Homo sapiens: one gene and its partners. The protein of the gene in region 2 purifies or fractionates together with the protein of the main gene of each other region. This does not show direct contact. Each region holds a gene or a part of one and is shown on either strand. Other genes may lie near its edges.

Evidence for each region.
Region 1: the proteins of RIPK4 (region 2) and TUBB6 purify together in Homo sapiens (affinity purification with mass spectrometry, with the first as the bait; 2 studies listed by BioGRID). This does not show direct contact.
Region 3: the proteins of RIPK4 (region 2) and MADD purify together in Homo sapiens (affinity purification with mass spectrometry; 2 studies listed by BioGRID). This does not show direct contact.
Region 4: the proteins of RIPK4 (region 2) and TMPO purify together in Homo sapiens (affinity purification with mass spectrometry, with the first as the bait; 2 studies listed by BioGRID). This does not show direct contact.

Annotation. Positions count from the first base shown.
Region 1 is NC_000018.10:12,311,212-12,318,246, forward strand, and holds part of TUBB6 (tubulin beta-6 chain), read left to right. Parts: intron 1-7,035. UniProt on the Homo sapiens protein: Tubulin is the major constituent of microtubules, a cylinder consisting of laterally associated linear protofilaments composed of alpha- and beta-tubulin heterodimers.
Region 2 is NC_000021.9:41,764,050-41,770,949, reverse strand, and holds the start of RIPK4 (receptor-interacting serine/threonine-protein kinase 4), read left to right. Parts: upstream 1-3,897; 5' UTR 3,898-3,908; coding exon 3,909-4,090; intron 4,091-6,900.
Region 3 is NC_000011.10:47,280,124-47,287,158, forward strand, and holds part of MADD (MAP kinase-activating death domain protein), read left to right. Parts: intron 1-1,451; coding exon 1,452-1,630; intron 1,631-2,257; coding exon 2,258-2,493; intron 2,494-2,689; coding exon 2,690-2,846; intron 2,847-4,054; coding exon 4,055-4,158; intron 4,159-4,251; coding exon 4,252-4,442; intron 4,443-4,817; coding exon 4,818-5,071; intron 5,072-5,327; coding exon 5,328-5,467; intron 5,468-6,309; coding exon 6,310-6,411; intron 6,412-7,035. UniProt on the Homo sapiens protein: Guanyl-nucleotide exchange factor that regulates small GTPases of the Rab family. Converts GDP-bound inactive form of RAB27A and RAB27B to the GTP-bound active forms.
Region 4 is NC_000012.12:98,546,579-98,550,875, forward strand, and holds the end of TMPO (thymopoietin), read left to right. Parts: intron 1-994; coding exon 995-1,280; 3' UTR 1,281-3,773; downstream 3,774-4,297. UniProt on the Homo sapiens protein: May help direct the assembly of the nuclear lamina and thereby help maintain the structural organization of the nuclear envelope. Possible receptor for attachment of lamin filaments to the inner nuclear membrane.

The DNA of each region.
Region 1 (7,035 bases), on a different chromosome or scaffold from region 2:
AGGAACAGTTTTTTTTAAATCTTGACTTTTTTGGTGGGAAGGAACCTCTATATCTCTAAATGAAATTCTTCTACTGGTAGTTCTTGATTAAAAAACAAAAATCAAGCCAGGCGCGGTGGCTCATGCCTGTAATCCCACCACTTTGGGAGGCCAAGACGAGCGGATCACGAGGTCAGGAGATCAAGACCATCCTGGCTGACACGGTGAAACCCTGTCTCTACTAAAAATACAAAAAATTAGCCGGGCATGGTGGCACGTGCCTGTAGTCCCAGCTACTCGGGAGGCTGAGGCAGGAGAATCGCTGGAACCCGGGAGGTAGAGGTTGCAGTGAGCTGAGATTGCACTACTGCACTCCAACCTGGGTGACAGAGCGAGACTCCATCTCAAAAATAGCAAAAAACAAAAAAACAAAAACCAAGAAACAATTTTAGACATTAGCTTCTTTTTCCCCATCATTATAAAGTTATTTTGCCATTTGTTTTTGGTTCCTATATTGGTTTTATCAGAATTAGGTAAATCCTTTTTTTCTTGCTTCTTCCACCTAAAAAATGATAGTAAAACATATCTTTCTGCAGACTTCTGAAGAAAATTATATAAAATTACATGAAGTGGTACCATTAGTGTTATCAAGTAGAACCTACAGGATAGGTGGCAGATTTGGAAGTTTCCCACCTATTTTAATGTTAGAGACCACATATCTATTGACATTATTGCTAAAAAAAAAAATTCCTCACTCAATCAAACATATTTCCAATACCTGTGAAAAGCAGTGTCTTCCAAGAAAATGTGAAGAATTTGAAGACTGATTCTGGCTTAAAAGCACTATGGTGTAGGAATCAAATACATCATGAAAAATCTACATTCTAACCCCTTTCTCAAAAGGCACCAGGAAGAGATAGTTTAATAGAGGGTAACAGACAATCCCATTATCCAAACCATTCCAGAGAGAAAATGATGGAAAACTTCCCAACATTTCCTATGAGGCTAGGTAGCTTCTACTAGAACATACAAGTGAAAGCTGTATATCAAACTTACTTAAAAATATAGATGCAAAAATCCAAAATAAAATACTTAGAATATCAAATGTAGTTGTGTTTTTTAAAAAATATATTAATAGCACATTGTGACCAAGTAAGACTGAGAGGCAGACAGTGTAATGGTTAGGAGTCTGGCTGTGCTGCCAGACTCCCTGGGTTTAAATTTTGGCCCTTCCACTCACTATGTGGCCTTAGACTTATTTAACTTACTTGTGACTTAATTTCCTCATCACAAGTGGGACTGTCTACCTCTTAGTGAGATGTAAGGATTAAATAAACACTTAGAATGTCTAGTACAAAATAAGTGTTTGAGAAATACTAGCAACATCCCAGGAATGCAAGGATGGTTCAACATTAAGAAGTCTACTAATAGATTAAAGACAACATCTTAATAGATGACCCAAAAAAGTGGGTTTTTTTTCTGACTCCCAGCAGGAAACAATTTTTTAAAAAAGATTAAAGTTTTGGAAGCCAGGAGCAGTAGCTAACGCCTGTAATCCCAGCACTTTGGGAGGCCAAGGCGGGCGGATCACCTGAGGTCGGGAGTTTGAGACCAGCCTGACCAACATGGAGAAACCCCATCTCTACTAAAAATACAAAATTAGCCCAGTGTGGTGGCACATGCCTGTAATCCCAGCTACTCGGGAGGCTGAGGCAGGAGAATCACTTGAACCCAGCAGGCGGAGGTTGGGGTGAACCAAGATCGCACCATTGCACTCCAGCCTGGGCAACAAGAGTGAAATTCTATCTCAAAAAAAAAAAAAAAAAGATAAAGTTTTGGATGTGTTCCTGATTTGTAGAGGACAAAAAAACTTCTATGTAAGCTGGAAGTAGAAAGAAACTTCCTTTATTTACAGATTATCTACCAGAAACCCATAGCAACATTACACTCCCTGGTGAAACAGAAGCATTTCCAGCAGAATTAGGTATAAGAAACAGATGTCCATTGTCTCTACAATTATTCCATGTTCTGAAGGCTTTAGCCAGTGCACAAAAACCAGAGAAAGAAAAAATGCAAATCATGTAAAGGAAAAGACAAAAGTGTTATTTGTTGATGAAATGATTCTCTTGGAGTTTCCAGATAGGCTATCAGCTGAAAAATGACTAGCACTTACAAGACTTCAGTAAGGGAGCCAGACACAAGATAAAATATTCAGAAATTAATAGTTTTGCGATCAGGTTACCAATCTTTCTGATTTGCCTGGAACTGGGAGGTGTTCCCCAGGACACTAGACTTTGAGTGCTAAAACTGCCAGGGTCCCAGGCAAACTGGAACAGATGAATCACATTAAAAGCAATAATCACTGGGGAACACATCCTATTCACAACTGTAATAAAAGCTATAAATACCTGGGGACAAAATTTACTACTAACTAGAGGCAAGAGGGAATTAAAACAAAATATTCTCCCACCAGATTGGCCAGTATTTCAGAAGCTGCTAAGACCTAGTGTTGGTGAAGGTGTTTGGGAAAATAACAGCTGTTCAGAGAACTACTTAGTAGATTGAGCAAATCAATAATTTCCATCCAAGAGTTCCAGTTCAAGGAATCTGTTCTGCAGAAATGCTCACACATAGAGATTGCAGATTGGCCTCCAGAAGAGCTGAATCCATTTGCATGCCCACGGGGGGTGTCTGAGAGCTCCTCTTGCCCAGTGTCATCCTTGTCAATTCAGAGGGACTGCTCTCTGAGTACTGTAATAAAGACCTGACTTGGATAACATTAATATTCTGTATTGTGAGAAAGGAAAAAGGACGATCCTACTTTATACAGATCAGCATTGAGTAACTCACTTACTAAGTAGGTATAGACTCAGCAGCCACAGCTTCTTTCTGGACCACATTCCCAGGTCACAGAGTTAACATAGCCAGGAAGAAAGAGCACCGCACCGGGAGAGGGAAACTGAGCAGCTGACCCTAGCTCTGTGCCCGCTGGCAGCATCAGTTCCCTTCTCTGGGGGTCTTCATTTTACTATCTGAAATGAAGGACCCCCCCCAAGCATCTTGGGGTCACAGACCCCTGTAAGAATCTGCGAGAAGAAATGGCCCTATCTCCCCCACTTGTTGTAGAATTCTGCCCAGTCTTCTCCTTGAGGTTCAGTGGATTTTTGGTGAGAATCTGAGCGAGCGGACAGCTAAGATTTCTTGAGTCTGAATTATAGTTGGCTGAGTCTACCGTAGTCTCAGTAAGCTTTACCAGACACAATTCATGTATTTCCAACTAATACACCTTTTAGAAATCACACCTCTTCTTTGATAGGCAGTGTGTGCACATGGTGCGTAGCTGGAAAGGCCATACAGTGAAAACCCACCTCCCTCCCTGCCTGCCTCCCTCGCAGGAGTCCTTCCTGAGATTGGGAAACAGTTACAAGCATATCTGTGAATTTTTATAGATAAAAAAGATCTTAAAGTTTTACATATGTAAAATATATACCTTCTTCAAAGAAGGATATGAAACAACAGTAAAAGACAGGCATAAATGTAGCAGTTTACAACACAGAGTCAACTGTGAGCTCAGCTGTGGCTGAGAATTAATTTTAGCTCTGGGTTTCTGGCAACTAAATCCAAAAAAGGAAGCACAGCAGGTGACACAGCTGACATTGTCTCATAAAGGGGAATATATGCTTTTAATATATTTAAAAGGGAGCTCTCCCCACCATCCTGAGTGATTCGTATTTATTTTTAATTTGTACTTTGCTTTGCTTTTTAAACTTTGCTTTTTTTTTTTAGCAAAAACTAATATAACCACACTCTTAAAAGTTTAAAACTAGAGTTAAAAAAAAATTCTGTATGTTCATCATCTTAGTGTAATTATTGTCAGCACTGAGGTATTTTTTTCACCTTTGTTTCTTTTTGCTGACTCTCATTATTGTAATCATGGTATCATTTATATCTTTTTCCATTGAACATTATATTATAAACCATATTTCACATTTAGTTTCTAAAATCCATAATTTTTAATAGCTCCATAATGTGTAATTAATTCTTTATGCAACTTTATAATGGCCAATAATCAGGAAGCTGTTTCTTTTCAGCTTTTTGCTCTTAAAAGGAATATTGAACATCTTGATTCACTTAAATTTGTCTGTTTCTCACTTTGATTTCAGAATAGATTCTCAAAAAGCAAAATTACTGGGTCAAAGAGTGAAGAGATTTAAGCCCTTTTTACACACTTCCAATTGGATTAATGCCACCAGCAGTGTCTGAGAGCGTAGTTTTTGCTGCACTTTTGCCTGAAATTAAACTTTTCAAAGAAACGTAGCAACTGAATGCTTATTTTATGAGAGACTCAGGGCTTTAAGAACTACTTTATAGGAAATGTAAGAACAGCTCTGAATTTGGCCCTTCTATTCTACACTGACGTAAATTGTCAGCGTAAAACAGAGAAACCTGCACACATATCACGCCAGGACTCACGCATAGAGGAGCCGGAAGGCAGGACATTAAAATGCAACTCAGCGCACGCTGCACTGTTTCCCAGGGGAAGGGTGGTTAGCCGAAACTCATGCCACACCCATTACTGCTTTTTGAGATAAAATAGGAAAAAAGTATATAATTCTACATAGTTGAGTAAGTTCACACTCACACTTGTTACACAGGGCTTCATGTACCAGTGGCCGGTTTTATTTCTTAAATGGGTAGTAGGTGTGTAGAGATTCATATTATTTTTCATATGCTTTTGCATGCCTTAACTCTGTCAAAAAAAAGATATCAGTTGTCTCAAAGGTGTGGTCACGGAAAAGGCAGCTTTCATGGAGAAGGTTTTCAGCAGGTCATGGCTGTCTGGCCCCGGCCCAGTCTGCCCCAGGCCTGGCAGCAACTGAGGGACCCAACCCAGTCTGGATGGGTGCCCCGAGGAGGCCTCACCCACCAGCAGTCAACGCAGTGCAGCCAGGACCTGGCCAGGTCTCAAGAGAGAGTCGAAGCCATGAACTGATCTTTATGACATGAGTGCATCACAAACTATTGAAGTGGTGAGAAGCTAGTTTCTCACAGCTGCCACTTTAGCAATTGTGAGTTTTCTTTGGTTTATTTGAATTGAACATTGGGAGAGTGTAAGGTCTTTCTAGCTGTTGACAAATGGGATCACGAAGATTAAGACAAATTAAGACAGACCTATGGTGCCCATTTAGTTATCTAATTGTCCCTGTAAGCCTTCAAAAATGTTAGAAATGACCTTTGGCACATAAAAACTGTCCCCGAAATTGCTTCTTGCATCTTTGCTTCATCTGACTTGCAACCCTATTTTTGATTCAGAATGTTTTAAGTTTTCAACAGGTTGTACTAACATGATATGTCTTTAATAGGAATTTTAGCAAGTTGACACCATTTTGAGTTAAGAATTGTGACTTGTTTAAATGAATATGCTTATTTGTTAAAATAACATATTATGGAGAATGGAGAAGTATCCAGAATGTATAAACATTCTATATTGTTTAGCTAAATAGTTTTTAAGTCGTTCTCCAGTAAAAGAGGCAGAATTGTCTGTGAACTGGAGATGATCCATCCTCACTGGCTTTATACCATATTGTTCCAGTTAGAGTTGGTAAATTACAATAAACCAGTGTCATTCCATTTCCAAATAGAGTTTGAAATGATTTAGGAAACACTCACTTACATTAGTAGTGTATACTTTTAAAAGTGAAAGTTACCTGTAATTCCAGCACTTTGGGAGGCGCAGACAGGCAGATCATCTGAGGTCAGGAGTTCGAGACCAGCCTGGCCAACATGGTGAAACCCTGTCTCTCCTGAAAATACAAAAATTAGCCAGGCGTGATGAGTGCCTGTAATCCCAGCTACTCGGGAGGCTGAGGCAGGAGAATCACTGGAACCTGAGAGGCGGAGGTTGCAGTGAGCCGAGATTGAGCCATTGCACTGCAGCCTGGGTGATGGAGTGAGACCCTGTCAAAAAAAAAAAAAAAAAGAAAACTTCCCAGTTGGGCAGTGGCTAATGCCTGTAATCCCAACACTTTGGGAGGCTGAGGCAAGTAGATCACTTGAGCCCAGGAGTTGAAGGTCAGCCTGGGCAACATAGTAAGACCCTCTGTACAAAAAGTTTTTTTAAATTAGCTAGGCGTGGTGGTGTGCACCTGGGGTCCCAGCTATTCAGGAGGCTGAGGTGGGAGGATCACTTGAGCTAGGGAGGTTGAGGCTGAGGCTGCAGTGAGCGGTGTTTGCGCCACTGCACTCCAGCCTGGGCGACAGAGCAAGACCCTGTCTCAAAAAAAAGAAAAGAAAAACTTCTGTAATGAATTGCTGGTTGCATAGCAGTCATACCTACTCTATTGTTGGAAAGTTTTGTGGGAAAAGAATGAAGCACCAGAAAGGTAAACGTTCTTCCAGCCTCTTTCTGTATTTCTAACTTTTTCTTCCAGATTCAGGGCTAGAAGAGGGGGCAGGAGTGCACAGACCCTTGACACTTATTCCATCACCCATTGTGAGCTTGAAACCAGAGGGGGGACTCAGAGAAAACCCTGGGGACCTGTTGCAGCCCCACTGCCAAAAAGCTTAGAGTTGGCAGCCTCCTGCTAACTGTCTGGAGTCACTGACTAACATCACACCGTATCAGTACAGAAGATGTTCAGTTCACAACTCCCAAATATTTAACTGGAACATCTGTTGCTATGAGACAGTGGCAAAATATTTTTCAGAAGTCACCAGCTTCCTCCTTTCATCAAGAGCACAGAAAACTTCATGGCTATTCATGCTATAAATATTGAGGAAGCTGGGTAAATGGTGTGAGCTGCAGAGGGAGTCAAGTTCAGCATCTCCGTCCACTTACAGCTAGCTCAGGTCTGATTGATTGGGGTTCTATGTTTGCCAAAAGCCACCTACTATTTTCAGTTGTTGGTTTCTGCTATTTTAATGAAATAGGTCCCAGGCTATTTTGACAGCTGCCCTGGGTCTTTCCTTTGTAAAATGTGACAGTTCTAGCACCGAGTGTGGACCAGCCCCGAGCTTGTTCCTCCCAATACCTATGTTGTAGTTTTGCCAGGTGCT
Region 2 (6,900 bases):
GGAGATGCTGGAAAGAACCAGTTTGGGGGTGAAAAGCATAGGCTTATCTCAAATGGGTAGCGGTGCCTTAGGTACATCCTACTGTGGGCACCATGTTAAGTTTTGGGGGTTTGAGGCTCAGAGGAAAGGTCTGGCCTGCAGACAGAAGCTTAGGGATCTTCGTAGAATACATGGAAGCTGAGGTGAGCCTGGATGAGCTGCCTGGGGAAAGAGGGGAGGATCAGGGAGGCTCCAAATTGGTGTTTTAAGAAGCCCCACATTTAAAGACTATGGAGTGGAGCATGAGGGTGCAAAGCAGATTAGAACGTAGCATTACTACAATTATAATTCATCCCCCATCTGCTTCATGGCTTCTGCCATCAGACACAAGCCCCTAGGTTGCTGAACAGCACCCTTTATGCTGTGTTCCCAGGACACGGAATGTATGATCCTGCAGGAAGACTCATGGAACCAATGGGTCAAAGGAGGAGCTGTCTCTGATAAGGAAGTGTTTGTGTAAATAGAAAATATTTGCTTGAGTAAGAGCGAGGAGTTGGGTGTCAGGTGGAGATGGGTCTCCCAGAGGTGGTCTGGGAGCCCTCGCGAGTCAGGCCCTCAATGTCTCCCCTAAATCACTTTGTCAGAATTAGTGAAGGCAGAATCTCTGCAGTGAACAAGTTATGTTCTTTTAGAAAATAACACAATGCGGAGGGAATTCTCAAAAACAACCATGCAAGTGGTGGCAGGAGTGGCTGTTGTAGGGGAGGGAGGAGCCTACTAAGCAGGGAGGAGGCTGGGTGCAGAGGCCTGGCGGGAGGGGACTATGTTCCCAGGTGGCTGACCCAGCTCAGCTCCACGCCCCTGTCCCATGGTCATGCCAGCAGGTGGACCCCAGGGGCTCCAGCTTTATTCTGGGGCCTCTGAGAGCCAGGTCAGCCCTATGTCAGCTCCACGATCTCACTGAGCCATGCACTTACAAGGGTTGAGTTGCTCCAGGACCCTGAGAAGGACAAAGACGAAAATGACTCAATTGAAAATCTCACTATTCACCCATGGCCTGGCATGTGCCACACACATATAATTATCATCTGCGTGGATCCCCACCGACATCTCGAAGCAGGTCCCTCTATCCCACATGTCAGGGACAGGCAAATGCACCATGGTCACAGCCTGGGACCCCATCTGAGGCAGGCTGGCTGCAAACCCAGAGACGTCTCTATCCTGTCTTCTCCCTGGCCGGCAACCTTCATTGTTCCCTGCGGTAGGATGTTAAAGGCAGCTTCCTGGCACTTCCAGACCAGGGACCTTGGGCTGCCTGCTGGGTGGGTCAGTGCTAAATGGCCCCCTATGAAGAAGGGCACAGCTTGGGGACCTGGAGCTCAAGGGATCACCTATTTAGATTCGCTGTCAGGACATCCAGTATAGGAGGAAACTGGCTTGGAATTCTTCTGGGGAAGGGGCCAGGAGGAACACAGGGTAGTGGGGGAGTGGGGGCTTGCAAATGTCAGCAGACAGCCCCCTTCCCCAACTCCTCCTTCCCACCTCCCACCCCCCATTGTCTCCCCTCGTCGTCCCTCCCCTCCTCACCTGCACTGCACTCCCAGGCGGGTCAACAGTCTCTCCGTGGAGCTTCGTGCCCTCGGGGCTTACCTCCTAAAAACCTTCAAGTCTGCACCCCTACTGTGCCTCCGTGGCTGCGCCCTGCTTTCCACCCAGGATCTGTGCTGATTGGTTTGTTTGTAACCACACCGGGCACGTTGTCCATGCAGGCACTTCATGAGGTTAATTAATGTTGTCCCATGAAACCTCAGGACAGCCACCTCCCAACTTGCCCTATTATTCATTTCATCTTTTTCTTTAAATCGTTCCACTTTTCTTTGGCCCTAAAATGTATTTAAAACGAAACTAAATTACTTTTATACTTGGAAATTCTAACCTCACCAGCCTGGGACCAATGACTGTTAACATAAATAGCAGCTGCGCTCCCGGAATCCCAGAGGGTCTGGAACTCGAATTCACAATTCCTGGAAAGGTGTTTGTTTTCGTTTTACCAGTTGTCATGTGAATCGGTAAAGCACTTCAAAGTCCGCAGAGGAGCCGGATACCAAACCAGGTTCCTGCCGCCGAGCCCGTGATCTTTGGACCCGATCTGCTCACAGCTGGGAGCTGGCTCTTTTGGTCTCCAGGGGGCTCTGGTCTTCAGTCCCAGGCACCAGGCACTGAGCTAGCAGCAGACACTCCATAAATATTTGTCAAATGAAGCACACAGATGATTAAATAAATGAAATTGGAGCGTTTTATTACTTGCGTGGTGTGGGCTCTTAGTCACCCCCAGCTGCGGAGCTGTGTGCCGGAGACTGTAGATGGAGAAAGGTACTTTGCTAGAGCTGAGCCCCGGGAACAGGACAGGTGACTCACTTTCAAGTCCATTCATTTTTTTCCCACCAAAATAATAACTATGTTTACTTCCAAGGTATCTTCGTAGATTCAAAACTCCAATTATTTTTTAAAACATTAGTCCAAATGTAAGTTACATTTGTGACAAGCTTAAAACAACTATTTGCCACTCCAGCCTTAAGGAGACCAACTTTAATTTCCGGAGTATGTGGGAAAGGAAGTGGCTCCCTGGTCCCCCCAGGAGGCCCCCCGAGCAAGCATCGTCATGTTGGGATGTGTGAGTTCCCTCCAAAGAGCGGCCGGATGGGAGTGGGGAGGCAGTGGGGAGACGCGGCTCCCCGCTACAGGCTATGAAAGAAGGTCCGCGCCCGTTTGGAAGGGGGAGCCTGGAGACACTAGGTCTGCGGCTTTCAATGCGCTGACTTGGGGCAGCCTCTCTCTTTCCGAGTTACTAACACAAAAACACAGTTAATGTCGTTAAAATACCCTCTCCTTTAGCTCCGCCCTCCTGTCTTCATTATTAATCTCCTGTGGCCAAAAATAAGCCTTCACTCACCGTTGCGTCTCAGGAATGAGTGAGTGTTTTCTGAGGTGTGGACGCGTGCGTGATCTGTGATGCACTTCGGCCTCTAACCCAAATATCCTTCCAAGGCTGGGAATTTTTTTTCCCCATATGTGAAAAAAAAATCTTTCCTTTTCAAACCATCTGTTCTACCTGTAAAAAGAGGCTGTTATTTAGGAAAGGATGAGGGAACTCTTGCATTTGAAATGGACTTTAGATTTGCTGTTGGGTAATTTTTTAAAAAAAGTTACTTTCTGAGAGGAAACTCGTGTAAAAAAGCAAGACGTGAACCTGCAGGGAATTAGACTAACGAGTGAAGAAAGCCAATTTCAAAAAATTAGGCGCTGTATGATTCCTGTATCTAAACATAACATTTCTGAAATAAAACAATTTTAGAAATAGAGGAAAGATTAGTGATGCCAGGGCTCCGGGGTGCGGCTGTAAAATCGCCACAGGAGTGGCCAGGTGGGGGTGGATACGGGAAGGTACACAGATGATTACATTGTGTAAAACTAATACATGCAAAGGAAGACGAGTAAAACGGCAAAACTGAATAAGATCGGTGACTGTATCAAAGTCAATATCCTGGTTGTGAGATTGGACTTTTTTTTTTGGCAAAGTTTTGCAAAGTGGTAACACTGGGGGAAACTAGGCAAAGTGAATGATTTCTTACAACTGCATGTGACTCCGCAATTAAGGAAAAAAAAAAAGCAAAGAAAAGCAGGGCAGCTGATGCGCACGTCGAGACCCGTGAGAAGCGTGAGAAGCTCTGCTCACCCAGGGGAGAGCGCAGTGACCCGCAGCGTCTATTCATCCGTCCGCAGTCACCGGGCGCTGGCAGAGAGGGCGCCCGGGGGGCGGGTAAGTGGGCGGGGCCTGGGGGCGGGACGACCTACGGAAGTGACGTAACAGGGCGGAGCGCGCACCTGGGCACCTGGGCAGCCGCCGCGGCGCTGGCTAGACGTGCGCGATGGAGGGCGACGGCGGGACCCCATGGGCCCTGGCGCTGCTGCGCACCTTCGACGCGGGCGAGTTCACGGGCTGGGAGAAGGTGGGCTCGGGCGGCTTCGGGCAGGTGTACAAGGTGCGCCATGTCCACTGGAAGACCTGGCTGGCCATCAAGTGCTCGCCCAGCCTGCACGTCGACGACAGGTGAGCGGCCCGGGCGGGGCGCTGGGGCGGCTGGGGCCCGGGCTGGGGTCGGGGTCGGGGTGCTCTGGTCCCGGGGTCCTGCCTCTCTCTCCCGAACTCACCCCCGGAGCAGCTTCGGGGGGGAAACCAATTGCCGGCGAGGCCGCGGGGCTCCGACAATGTCCACTCGGCCTGTCCGGGCCGGAGGGGCGCGGGGGCTTTGGCGAGCCCGGGCTCGATCGCGCACGTCGGGGCCGGGTCAGGCGGCTCCTCTGGGGCTCCTCTGGGGCTCCTCGGGGGCCGCGTCTGCCCGGACGTCCTAAGGCGCCCAGTCGTGCTTCCTGACACTCCCCGAGTGGCCCTGGTTTTCGGGGTCTCCAGCTCGCCTTGCGCCTCGGACCCGCGCCCTTGGGAGGCGCGTCCGGCCCGCCCGGGACCCACCGGGGCGCTGCGGTCTGCGCAGGGCTTAGAAAAATTGCCATGTGGGCCTCTGGGCTTTGTGAGTGGAGTTAGCCTCCGTTCGACTTACTTAGTAATTTACGTTGGAACACAAATTGGTGTAAGACTGTAATTATTTCGGTCGGAAGCTTCGGCTTGGCTCGGGCGAGGCTTCCCGGGCGCCCGGCGCTTGCGCGGTGGAGCTCCGGGGCTCGGGCCTGGCAGTGGGGTCCGGCACGGGGCCCGGGGTGTTGATCCGTCCGCCCAGCGCTTCCTCGCCGCACACTCTCGTTTTAGCTGACTTAATTTCGAGACCGACCCGCTAGGGAAGGGCCTTGCATTCAAGTTCTGTGGCCGTGCCATGGGGCCCTCCTGCACCCCAGTTTCCCAGTCCAAAAGTCAGAATGGAACCTGCCTGTACCTACCTAGCAGGAGTGTTCAAGGTAACAAAGACGAATGGGAAGGACGCAGAGCCGCCCGTGTTAAATTCGGTGGGTCGGTTGTCGTCTGTGCATAATTTGAGAGGTAGGGAGAATGTTCTTGAACAGTACCTCTTTGTTGTTGTAGATTTCACTGTTTACAGTTGATTTTGATGGTTCATATGTAAGGCTCAATTTAGCACGTTTTAATTATTTATCCTTTAATGAAGCTTACCTTCTACATGGAAGCTATGCTTGTATTTTACCTAGAGATTCCTTGAACACATACACTCAGAAGCGACACCTTTTTAAAATACCATTTAGCCTTTGCTGCCTGGCAGACCTGGTTTCGAATGCTCGGCTGATTGAGTGATGGGGCCGCTAAGCCCCAGCTTTTCTGCAGAATCGTTGTGATGCCTGTGTCTGGGGTGGCAGTGCGTGCTGCAGCCCCATACCGTGACTGTGACGCCTCTGTGGATGAGAGGCCTGTCCTCTCCCTTTGCATTTTCGTCCTTGGCTAGGAGACTACACAGCAGAGATAGTGGTGGCTTTTTGCCGTAACCCTCAAATCCAGTGTTTCTTGGAAACACCAGTAGAGTGGTGACGAGTGTCATCAAATCACCACTAGTTCAAAGGTGAGATGCTGGCCCAGGCTGTGCACTTTTTCTCCCCTGCCTCAGATTCTGGGAACTTCTCAGGCCAGGAGGGGTGCTGTGGTTATTTTGATGAAATCCAAACCACTTTGAATACCAGCCAGTGGTTAGGTTCTGAAAGGGAACCCTCTCCATAGGGGCATTCGTTTTATCTCTTGGGGATGTGTGTGAGCTTTAATCATCAGTGAAAATTTTCACACCACTTTCTTATATTGGAAGAGCAAAGTAAACAAGCACCTACCTGGACTGACTCACCAGCTCACATCCTTAGGATCTTCTGTTATTTCTAGCGACCAGTCCCTTATTTCTTGGGTGGCCTGGTTGGAGGGAGGCTTTCTCCACTTAAGGTGGATCACTTAGGATATTGCATAGCTTGGTTGAAAAGTGTTTTGTACTTTAACTGGAAGCCTTTCCTACCCTGCCCAAAGCAGACAGGTGGTGGCATGTCAGGTGGCTAGGTCGAGGTCAGCATCGCCTAGCAGGAAGCATTTCACCTCCTGTGCTCTGCTGGGCCTGGTAGAGTAGGTTGGGGCTTTGCCATGTGCAGCAGTGGCTGATCTTTCTGAGAAGTTGGTCAAACCCTGGCTCTTTGTGAAGCTGATTCCTTTAGGTTAATTATTGACTGTATTGAGCCTGAGGTTCTTGTTAGGAATGTACATCAGTCCCACTGTGCTCCAGGAGCTGGTTGCATTGCAGTCTCACAAGGTTGTACCTAGGCCTTGAAGTAGTCGCTGTGCCACTTGCCCTGCCACATTTCTCAGTGCTTTTCTGACGAGCTGCCTCCCACCCCAGCCCCTCATATTTGCAAGATGTTCCCTGAATTGGGGCATAGGATTCTCCTAGGGTCTTTGTGTGCAGCCCCCGGCCCTGTACCCCTTCTGCCTAAGTCTTGCTTCTCTTCTCGGAGGGACAGCCCCTCTCACCCCTGACACACGGGTCTGGGCCTCTTCCAGGCTGCTGGGGGTCAGTGATGGTCTAGTCCACTTGTTACATAGGAGCCACCACAGGTACAGGTGCAGGTGAGGCTGATTTTCACTGGCCAACGCTGCTTGCCTCTCAAGGTGGTCTGGGGTCTCCTGGCTCCCTGCAGCTCCCCTGGGCCAGGCCTTCAGCCGGCCCTTGGCCACAGCACCTGCTCGGGGCTTGTTTGATGAGCAGGCTGCGCCAGGCCATGTGAGCTTGCTTTTCTGTGCAGGAAAGGTTGGGGGGCCGCCCAGCCCCCAGACACTTAGCGAGGCTCCCAGGGACAGGAAGTGCCTGCCAGGGGGCCCTCCTGGGAGTTCACAGGTGACACCCCATTGATCTGAGATTACCTTCATCA
Region 3 (7,035 bases), on a different chromosome or scaffold from region 2:
GATTGATTTTCTTCTTCCTCTGCATGCTGAACACAGTACCTGAAGGTAACACATGACAAAGCTTCATTCCCTTCCTCTGCCTTATGTGTTGTACAGGAACACCAGTAGATAACACTGTGTTTATTTTTAGGAATCCCTGCTCTCATTTGAAGGGCCTTTAGAAATCTTTTTCTGTGTTGTCTGAAGTACTTAGTAGTATCTCTAGATGCTATGTTTGGGTTTAAATGGGTCATTGTGTTTCATCCCTCTCACCTCAGTTGCTTCATCACTGCTAATATAATATGATACCTTGTTACTGCAGAGTCTAGTGGGAATTTTAAGTTCAGAAAGTTCTCTAGCTGCCTTCACTTGCTGTGTTTTCAGTCTTGATGATTGCTTTAGTATGACTAATGAGATGGAGAGGTTAATAAATGGAATTATATTTAATTAAATTAATTAATTAATTTATTTATTTATTTTGAGATGGAGTCCCACTCTGTCACCCAGGCTGGAGTGCAGTGGCACAATCTTGGCTCACTGCATTCTCTGCCTCCCAAGTTCAAGCGAATCTCTTGCCTCAGCCTCCTGAGTAGCTGGGATTCCAGGCACACACCACTGTGCCCAGCTAATTTGTTTGTATTTTTAGTAGAGCTGGGGTTTCATCATGTTGGCCAGGCTGGTCTCAAACTCCTAACTTCAGGTGATCCACTTGCCTTGGCCTCCCAAAGTATTGGGATTACAGGCATGAGCCACCGTGCCCAGCCAGAATTATATTTTAAATGTTTGTAGGAGCTAAGATCCTTGGACTCATTGATCCTGTGTTCTAACTCCTGCTATTCAAAGTGTGGTTTGTGAACCAGCAACATTAGCATCACTCGGGCTTGTTAAAGTGCAGGATCACTCCAGGCATATTGAATCGGGATCTGCATTTTAACAGCCTCCCCTGGTGATTCTTCTCCTCACTCACATTTGAGAAGCACTGCTGCTCTCGACCAGTGGTCTTCACGCTGCCCCATTGAGCCTCTGAGGGGCCGATTTAGCTTGGGAGCCCTGAGCATTTGAGGCTCTGCTTCCTGTGTCCTTCAGAGCAGCTCTGTTTTCAAATTTCCATTCTATATAATTTCACATAGATTCCAATTTTAAAAAACATTTAATGACTATAATAATTTTGCAAACGACTGTCGTGGACTTCAGATAAGATCAAGTTGCCTTGAGCTAGGTTGTCTTAAGATGGAGAGCTACATATTTCAAACTGTTTTCTAAAGGCTAGAATATTGGGATTTTTATTTCAAAGATGAAAGGTCTGAAATGGGTTGGCCGTGATTTGCAAATTAGCACCGTTCTTTGTTGCAGAACTTTTTGACCAGAGAATACGAGGTAGCAGACCTTAGGAAGGCCTTTTCCTTGGAGTTAAGATTGGCTAGCTGCCCAGGGACGTTCCTTGTGTAAGGAATTTTCTTGTTGTTCCACAGGCCTTGGCCAGCATGAGTCTCAACACCCAGCCCATCCTCAATCTGGAGAAATTTCATGAGGGCCAGGAGATCCCCCTTCTCTTGGGAAGGCCTTCTAATGACCTGCAGTCCACACCGTCCACTGAATTCAACCCACTCATCTATGGCAATGATGTGGATTCTGTGGATGTTGCAACCAGGTAAGACCAAGCCGACTGTATAATCACAAGTTCTTAAATTAATTTCTTTGCTCTCTAAGGGACCTTGGGGCAGACTATTTCTCTGAACCAGGGTTCCTTTTTTTTTTGAGATAGATTCTCACTCTTGTTGGAGTGCAATGGCATAATCTCAGCTCACTGCAACTTCCACCTCCCGGGTTCAAGTGATTCTCCTGCCTCAGCTTCCTGAGTGGCTGGGATTACAGGCGCCTGCCACCACGCCTGGCTAATTTTTACATTTTTAGTAGAGACGGGGTTTCACCATGTTGGCCAGGCTGGTCTGGAACTCCTGACCTCAGTTGATCCACCCGCCTTGTCCTCCCAAAGTGCTGGGATTACAGCCGTGAGCCACCGCACCCAGCCCAGGGTTTCTTTATGTATAAAATATATACTATATTTGGTTGTTATTTTCCACCTTAGTAAAATCAAAGTGAAGAAATAGTAAACCACGTGCTCAGGATGAAGAGGGGGCTGATGATTCTTTAAGATATCTCTCCCCTTGATGTTGGAAGCCTGTTAAGTGATGGCTTTGGGAGGTGTTCTAAGACTTTGGATCATGGGAATCCTTACCCTATGGGTCTCAGATTATCTCATCATCTGCTTCCCCAGGGTTGCCATGGTACGGTTCTTCAATTCCGCCAACGTGCTGCAGGGATTTCAGATGCACACGCGTACCCTGCGCCTCTTTCCTCGGCCTGTGGTAGCTTTTCAAGCTGGCTCCTTTCTAGCCTCACGTCCCCGGCAGACTCCTTTTGCCGAGAAATTGGCCAGGACTCAGGCTGTGGAGTACTTTGGGGAATGGATCCTTAACCCCACCAACTATGCCTTTCAGCGAATTCACAACAGTGAGTCTACCTGCCCTCTGCTCCGCTCTGCCTTGTGCCTCTGTCCTCCTGATGGACTTTGATTTTTCCTTTGCTAATGTTTGACCTGTGCCTTCTATCCTGGCTCTGCTTTAGACTTTTTCCTGCCTTTCTTTCAGGCGTTGCTTGCCTTTTTTTCCTTGCTGCTGACTTTCTGTTCTTTTCCCTCATGGGGTAGATATGTTTGATCCAGCCCTGATTGGTGACAAGCCAAAGTGGTATGCTCATCAGCTGCAGCCTATCCACTATCGCGTCTATGACAGCAATTCCCAGCTGGCTGAGGCCCTGAGTGTACCACCAGAGCGGGACTCTGACTCCGAACCTACTGATGATAGGTGAGCATCCTTAGGGCAGCAAAAAGGTTTTAAAGGTGAGGAGGCTCTCACTAGCCCTTCTTTAGCACAGAGAAGGCAAAGTCTCATAGGCTTCCCATATCAGTGTTTTTAATTTTATTTTATTTTATTTATTTATTTTTTTGAGACGGAGTCTCGCTCTGTCACCCAGGCTGGAGTGCAGTGACGCAATCTCGGCTCACTGCCAGCTCCGCCTCCCGGCTTCATGCCATTCTCCTGCCTCAGCCTCCCGAGTAGCTGGGACTACAGGCGCCCGCCACCACGCCCGGCTAATTTTTTGTATTTTTAGTAGAGATGGGGTTTCACCGTGTTAGCCAGGATGATCTCGATCTCCTGACCTTGTGATCTGCCCGCCTCGGCCTCCCAAAGTGCTGAGAATACAGGCGTGAGCCACCGCGCCCGGCCTTATTTATTTATTTTTGTATGTATGTGACAGAGTCTTGCTGCTCTGTCACGCGGTCTGGAGTGCAGTGGTGCCGTCTCAGCTCACTGCAAGTTCTCCCTCCCAGGTTCAAGTGATTCTCCTGCCTCCGCCTCCCAAGTAGCTGGGACTACAGGTGCTGCCACCTTGCCTGGCTAATTTTTGTATATATATATTTTTTGAGATGGAGTCTTGCTCTGTCGCCCAGGCTAGAGCGCAGTGGCGTGATCTGGGCTCACTGCAACCTCCGCCTCTCGGGTTCAAGCGATTCTCTTGCCCCAGCCACCCGAGTAGCTGGGATTACAGGCACATGCCATCACGCCCAGCTAATTTTTTGTGTTTTTAGTAGAGACAAGGTTTCACCATGTTGGCCAGGCTGGTTTCAAACTCATGCCTTCAAGCAATTCGCCTGCCTCGGCCTCCCAAAGTGCTAGGATTACAGGCGCGAGCCACTGCACCCGGCTACTTTTTGTATTTTTAGTAGAGATGGTGTTTCACCATGTTTGCCAGGCTGGTCTCAAACTCCAGACCTCAGGTGATCCACCCGCCTTAGCGTCCCAAAGTGCTTGGATTACAGGCATGGGCCACTGTCCCGGCCCCCATATCAGTCTTTATGCTTTGGTTGACTGTTTTTCTTGGCTTCTTTATTTGATTTGTTCCCTGGCCTTGAGTTCGGAGTGCTCCCCCTTTTATTTTTCCTGGTGCTGATTGTAGGTGTTCTCCCTGCCCCTTTCTGTTTTGTTTGTTTTTTATGCACTTCACTCTGCAGTGGCAGTGATAGTATGGATTATGACGATTCAAGCTCTTCTTACTCCTCCCTTGGTGACTTTGTCAGTGAAATGATGAAATGTGACATTAATGGTGATACTCCCAGTAAGTGTGCTTGGGGAGATTGGCCAGCCCTGGGCAGGGGTTGGGGGCCCAAGGATGGAGTGGTCTGTACCTGCCTCCCTTGGATTTTGGCAGATGTGGACCCTCTGACACATGCAGCACTGGGGGATGCCAGCGAGGTGGAGATTGACGAGCTGCAGAATCAGAAGGAAGCAGAAGAGCCTGGCCCAGACAGTGAGAACTCTCAGGAAAACCCCCCACTGCGCTCCAGCTCTAGCACCACAGCCAGCAGCAGCCCCAGCACTGTCATCCACGGAGCCAACTCTGTAAGTGAGGAGCGGTGGATGAGTGAGAACCATGGCCTGGGATGTGGGCCTCATCTATTAGGAAAGCCAGGCTGTAGCTATTCATTTGCTGCTTCTCACACAATTTTCTCATCTTCCTCTTCATGGGCCCTAGAGCTTAGAGCCTAAGAGACCTACTTTTGACCCCAAAAGGAGGTCATCAGGCTTTGTTCAGGGTACAGCTATGATCCCCCTTATATAGTTTGTGGGGACAGAGAACGGGTGCTACAGAGATCATTTCCCACACATTCCTTAGGCTAGAAATCTGACAGGCCTGGTCCAGCCCTGCCAAACTGGGATTACAGGAAGGTACCATTGGGCACCAGGTAACCACTTTTAATTTCATGCGGCCTTTAGGAACCTGCTGACTCTACGGAGATGGATGATAAGGCAGCAGTAGGCGTCTCCAAGCCCCTCCCTTCCGTGCCTCCCAGCATTGGCAAATCGAACGTGGACAGACGTCAGGCAGAAATTGGAGAGGGGTCAGTGCGCCGGCGAATCTATGACAATCCATACTTCGAGCCCCAATATGGCTTTCCCCCTGAGGAAGATGAGGATGAGCAGGGGGAAAGTTACACTCCCCGATTCAGCCAACATGTCAGTGGCAATCGGTGAGAGCCTGGGCATCCCTTCTAGATGGGTGACTGAAGGACCTCACCTCAGTGGACCCTGGGCAAGGGTTAATCAGAAAGTCTGAGAAGTCTGAATGCTCTCGTGGTCCTGCCATCCCCAGAGGATGGTGTTCTGATCCAGGGGCTTAGGAATTACGGGAAGGGAGTGGCAACTGTAGTATAGCATAATTATGGCCCATACTCCCAAGATCAGGTACCCCTGCCTGGGGATCATAGGTGCCTCTGTGCATTCAAGGGCTCAAAAGCTGCTGCGGCCCAACAGCTTGAGACTGGCAAGTGACTCAGATGCAGAGTCAGACTCTCGGGCAAGCTCTCCCAACTCCACCGTCTCCAACACCAGCACCGAGGGCTTCGGGGGCATCATGTCTTTTGCCAGTAAGTGCCTTCAGCTGTCTCTCTCACTCCTGTGTTCCATTTTCTCTACAGCAGAGCCTGACTATGGCAAATGTTGCTTAGAACTTCACATGTAGGGCTAGGTTGGCATTAGCAAGCCCTAATCCAGTCATTTGGGTGATACTGAATAAGGCGTTTTCAAGTGAGGTCAGTAAAGGACAGGGACAGATTAGTCATTATGCCTGGACATTTCAGTCTATTTCAGGTAAGACAGCTGGATGGGTAACTGGAAAACAGGCAGTAAATTCAAAATCACACACTTGTACTTATATTTTGTGGAAATACTCTGGTCAAATTTGATTTGAGTCCATATCTGGTATCTTCTTTGCCTCATAACGGACTCTTCCATGAATGTGCTTTGAAATCGATATGAGATTGAATTTTGTGCTTAGATAGTATTCCCAGCAGTGCAGGGTCGTATCAGCTAAAGATTGAAGACAGACCATGGACTAGAGAGAGCGAACGTAGAGGATCCCTGTGATTGTGAGTTTCTTCAGCAGCCAGGGAGGGACAGTGCCAGCTTCAGACCAGAAGCCTGTTAACTGCCAGCTTTCATGCTGTGTAGCAGTGGATGAGAGACTTGGATATTATCATGTGAGGTGGACAGAGAAAGCTGTTACTGGGTTTTGGCTGATCCTGGCAGTGGCTCCATTGTTTGCCTGGAGTTAGACTTGATCCTTTCTAAGACAGATCAGAGATGATCTGATCCACCAAACTGGGATTGTGTTTGAAAAGGAGGGAGGTGCAGATGCTGATAGTCATTAGTCTACTGCTTTGATTACTTACTCTGCCAAGTCATCGCTCTTGCACCCTCCCCTTGATAGGCAGCCTCTATCGGAACCACAGTACCAGCTTCAGTCTTTCAAACCTCACACTGCCCACCAAAGGTGCCCGAGAGAAGGCCACGCCCTTCCCCAGTCTGAAAGGTAACTACAGCCTTCCTTTTGCCAAGCCAGGTTTCTCCGGGAGATGTTTCGGGCTGTGGGTTCATGTCAGGAGCCCTGCATCTGCTGAATCCTTTGACCTGGTTGTCGTCCCTCATGTTGCTCCTCATGGCTTTCACCGCACATCCTGGGCTCTGATGGTTGTCAGATGGAAACCATCTTTGTAGCTAGAGACGGCCCTGTTATGTCATTTAGGACAATGGCAACTGTGGGATTACTGCTGCTTCGCGGGAGGACCCTGTCAGGGTATATGATTAACATAGGGATCATCAGCTGCCCCCAGTCGTCTGCTGGGTTGCCACTGCATGAACTTAGGGCAAATTCCGTGCCAAGGAGCTGGCCCACCAGAGAATGGTTATGGAGAGCCTGGCAGCGTTCATAGAGCACAGCCTCTCACCTCTCACGCACTCATAAGCCTGTCAACCCAGGGCTTAATGAGTGCGCCAGGTAGTATTGGTTAGTTTCTAGGGGCAGTTAAAACCTTATGTGAAAGCCAGGCGCGGTGGCTCACGCCTGTAATCCCAGCACTTTGGGAGGCCGAGGCGGGTGGATCACGAGGTCAGGAGTTCGAGACCAGACTGACCAACATGGCGAAACGCCGTCTCT
Region 4 (4,297 bases), on a different chromosome or scaffold from region 2:
TGCCTGTAGTCCCAGCTACTCAAGAGACTAAGGCAGGTGGATTGCTTAAGCCCAGGAGTTCGAGACCAGTCTGGGCAACATAATGAGACTCTGTCTACCCACCGACTTTTAAATAAATAAGTGAACGAACTGTTCTTTTGGGAGCAGTTTAATTCCCCTAAGCCCACCAGTAAATATTCTTGAAAGTTGAATGAGTTTCAAAATTGCGATTGGTAAATGGAGGATTTTAAATAAATCACTTACTTACTACTTAAATTCATATGTTAAAATCTAAACGAAAATCTAGTGAGAAATAGTTTTTCCCCCCTAAGTTTCTCTTTTCTAATTGAAAAGGCTGTGTTTATGTATCTTAATTTTTAACTGAAAGAAACACAGCCAAAACTGTTTTGTTTTTCCTCTTTACTCCTAAACATGAGCTTTGAAGAGCCTTTAAGAAGGCAGGTTTAGTGACTATTTATCAGTGTTCTGAATATTCTTTTCTAATAAAGGATGCATCGAACTTTTTTTTTTTTTTTGAGACGGAGTTTTGCTCTGTTGCCCAGGCTGGAGTACAGTGGCGTGATCTCGGCTCACTACAACCTCCACCTCCTGGGTTCAAGCGATTCTCCTGCCTCAGCCTCCTGAGTAGCTGGGATTACAGGCACCCACCATCATGCCCGGCTAATTTTTGTATTTTTGTAGAGACAGAGTTTCACCATGTTGGCCAGGCTAGTCTTGAACTCCTGACCTCAGGTGATCTGCCCGCCTTGGCCTCCCAAAGTGCTGGGATTGCAGGCGCGAGCCACCATGCCCAGCCCATCTAACTTTTAAAATAGAAAATATGTAGAAGTTTTAAATAGGTTGACTGACCTCACTGCTTTATATGTATCAATTTTCTACTGTTACCTCAGGGAATGTGCTTGGAATTAGGAGTGGCAATGACATTTTATGTTATTTCTCTAAATCATGCCTTTATCTAAAATTATTTTTCTTTTCCTCCTTTCACTCCCAACAGTGCTAGTTGCCGCAGACCAATCAAAGGGGCTGCAGGCCGGCCATTAGAACTCAGTGATTTCAGGATGGAGGAGTCTTTTTCATCTAAATATGTTCCTAAGTATGTTCCCTTGGCAGATGTCAAGTCAGAAAAGACAAAAAAGGGACGCTCCATTCCCGTATGGATAAAAATTTTGCTGTTTGTTGTTGTGGCAGTTTTTTTGTTTTTGGTCTATCAAGCTATGGAAACCAACCAAGTAAATCCCTTCTCTAATTTTCTTCATGTTGACCCTAGAAAATCCAACTGAATGGTATCTCTTTGGCACGTTCAACTTGGTCTCCTATTTTCAATAACTGTTGAAAAACATTTGTGTACACTTGTTGACTCCAAGAACTAAAAATAATGTGATTTCGCCTCAATAAATGTAGTATTTCATTGAAAAGCAAACAAAATATATATAAATGGACTTCATTAAAATGTTTTTGAACTTTGGACTAGTAGGAGATCACTTTGTGCCATATGAATAATCTTTTTTAGCTCTGGAACTTTTTGTAGGCTTTATTTTTTTAATGTGGGCATCTTATTTCATTTTTGAAAAAATGTATATGTTTTTTGTGTATTTGGGAAACGAAGGGTGAAACATGGTAGTATAATGTGAAGCTACACATTTAAATACTTAGAATTCTTACAGAAAAGATTTTAAGAATTATTCTCTGCTGAATAAAAACTGCAAATATGTGAAACATAATGAAATTCAGTAAGAGGAAAAGTAACTTGGTTGTACTTTTTGTAACTGCAACAAAGTTTGATGGTGTTTATGAGGAAAAGTACAGCAATAATCTCTTCTGTAACCTTTATTAATAGTAATGTTGTTGTAGCCCTATCATACTCACTTTTTAAGACACAGTATCATGAAAGTCCTATTTCAGTAAGACCCATTTACATACAGTAGATTTTTAGCAGAGATCTTTTAGTGTAACATACATATTTTAGAGAATTGTTGGCTAGCTGTACATGTTTTGAAAAGCTGTTTAGCTAGCTATAAGGCTATAATTGGAAATTTGTATTTTTTATTTACAGCAAAACATTTATTCAGTCATCCAGTTTGCTACCAAAATATGTTTTAGATAAGTGTGTGTATGTTTGTTTAGAAGTTAGAAATTGTAAACACTGGTCTTATGTTTCATTTGGATTCATTATTGCATTGTCTTGTTACCAGAAACAAATTTTGCCGAGCTTTTTTTGCCCTATATTTCCCAGCATAATTTGATTAGAAAGTACAAAAAGGGCCAGGCGCGGTGGCTTACGCCTGTAATCCCAGCACTTTGGGAGGCCAGGGCGGGTGGATCACGAGGTCAAGAGATCAAGACCATCCTGGCCAACATGGTGAAACCCCGTCTCTACTAAAAATACAAAAAAATTAGCTGGGCGTGATGATGTGCGCCTGTAGTCCTGTCTACTAGGGAGACTGAGGCAGGAGAATCGTTTGAACCCAGGAGGCAGAGGTTGCAGTGAGCAGAGATTACGTCACTGCACTGTAGCCTGGCGACAGAGCAAGACTCCATCTCAAAAAAAATAAAAAAGTACAAAAAGTACTTGCTTTTATATTACATCATAAGCAGTAGTTAATAAAGTTGTATACTCTTAAGAGGTGGGCATTATGATTATTTTTTATTTTTTTATTTTTTATGAGATGGAGTCTCACTCTTGTCACCCAGACTGTAGTGCAGTGGCACGATCTGGGCTCGATGCAACCTCTGCCTCCCAGGTTCAAGCAATTTTCCTGCCTCGGCAGAGACGGGGTTTCACCATGTTGGCCAGGCTGGTCTCGAACCCCTGACCTCAAGTGATCAGCCCACCTCAGCTTCCCAAAGTGCTGGGATTACAGGTGTGATCCACTGCACCCGGCCGGCATTATGATTTTGTGTACTCTTGAAATGGTTATCTTTGTGGATGATTTTTTTTTTTAAGCTGAAACTTACCTCATGAATAACTTGATTAAAGTAGTAGGTGATTAAAATTTCAATAGAATCAAATGAGACAAAAATTTTAAACTGACTCATTTGAGTTTCAACTTTACAGTCATTGACCATAAAGCACACTAAAAATGTAAGTTATTTTTAAATACATCTGAAATAAAAATACTTACTAAAAAGGAAGAAGCCGAAGATGTATATTTAGACCAGCACACAATTTTGATTTCAATTAGCCTTATTCTAATATTTAGCTTTTAGATCTTTCATACACATTTTCACGTACTTTGCAATTGAGACCAGAAAGACTTGTAGGTCTTTCTGCAGAATGAGTGGGTCCTTGCAAAGTGAGTGGGAAACTTACTCCTAGATCAGAAATGTTTGCCTCTCTGAGTAAAATGTTTCTTTCAGATGAGCCATAGAGGGGGCACCTTTTACTCAACTTTTCTTTGTTTTGAAACTTTGTTTCCCATACTGTTTTCAGCCTTTTGTTTATAATTAGAAATTGTGAGAAGCTTCATTTAGTGTTTAAAAATGTGGGGAGATAAATCAGACTTAACATGTATGTAAGATCAATTCACTTAAAAGTATGGTCCAAATAGCAAAAATAGGACCAGGTGAAACATGTAGTCATTTTTTAAAAACATGTACTTGGTCTTTTGTGTGTGTCTGTTTTATTCCATTAGAATAAATGTGTCCTTGATGTAAATGCAAAGCATTTCTTCCTGATTAAATTGTAGATGTAGACTTTACAATATAATTCAATAATAAAAAGTAATTAACCTCTAGTTTTGTCGTTGCAATAAATGGTTTTCAGATAGCACAAACTGTGATTTCTGGATAACATTTCTTATGTGATATTTATGGATTATTGTGTTTTATTTCAGTCTGTTCATATGTTTTACTTCTTATTGTAATCGGGTTCTCGTTTATTCAAAGGTAAGCAATGTGTAGCTACTGTACTCACAGAATGACATTAAGCGCTCCAAGGCACCTCTCCCACACCTAGTTCCTTTTTCCCACCACTTTTACTGTCTTTAGTATTTACCTATGACCCTTATGATTGTTAGTCTTGCTTTGAGACTAAGCCCGTGTCACTGTGATACGTCATGGAGCTGTGCTCACAAGATGAAAGTGCCATTATGTCTTCCTCATTCATGTGTCCCCAGAGGTGATTTGACTTAAATTAGTGTTTCTCAAGGTAGTATAGACACCATAATTAATTATAAGGCAAATCGCATCAAAGGCTTAAAACAACAAGTTTTATTGCATGCTTACCATGTGCTAGGTACTTTTCTATGTGCTTAATATGTATTGATTCACTCAATCCTCACGATAATCCTATGGAGTA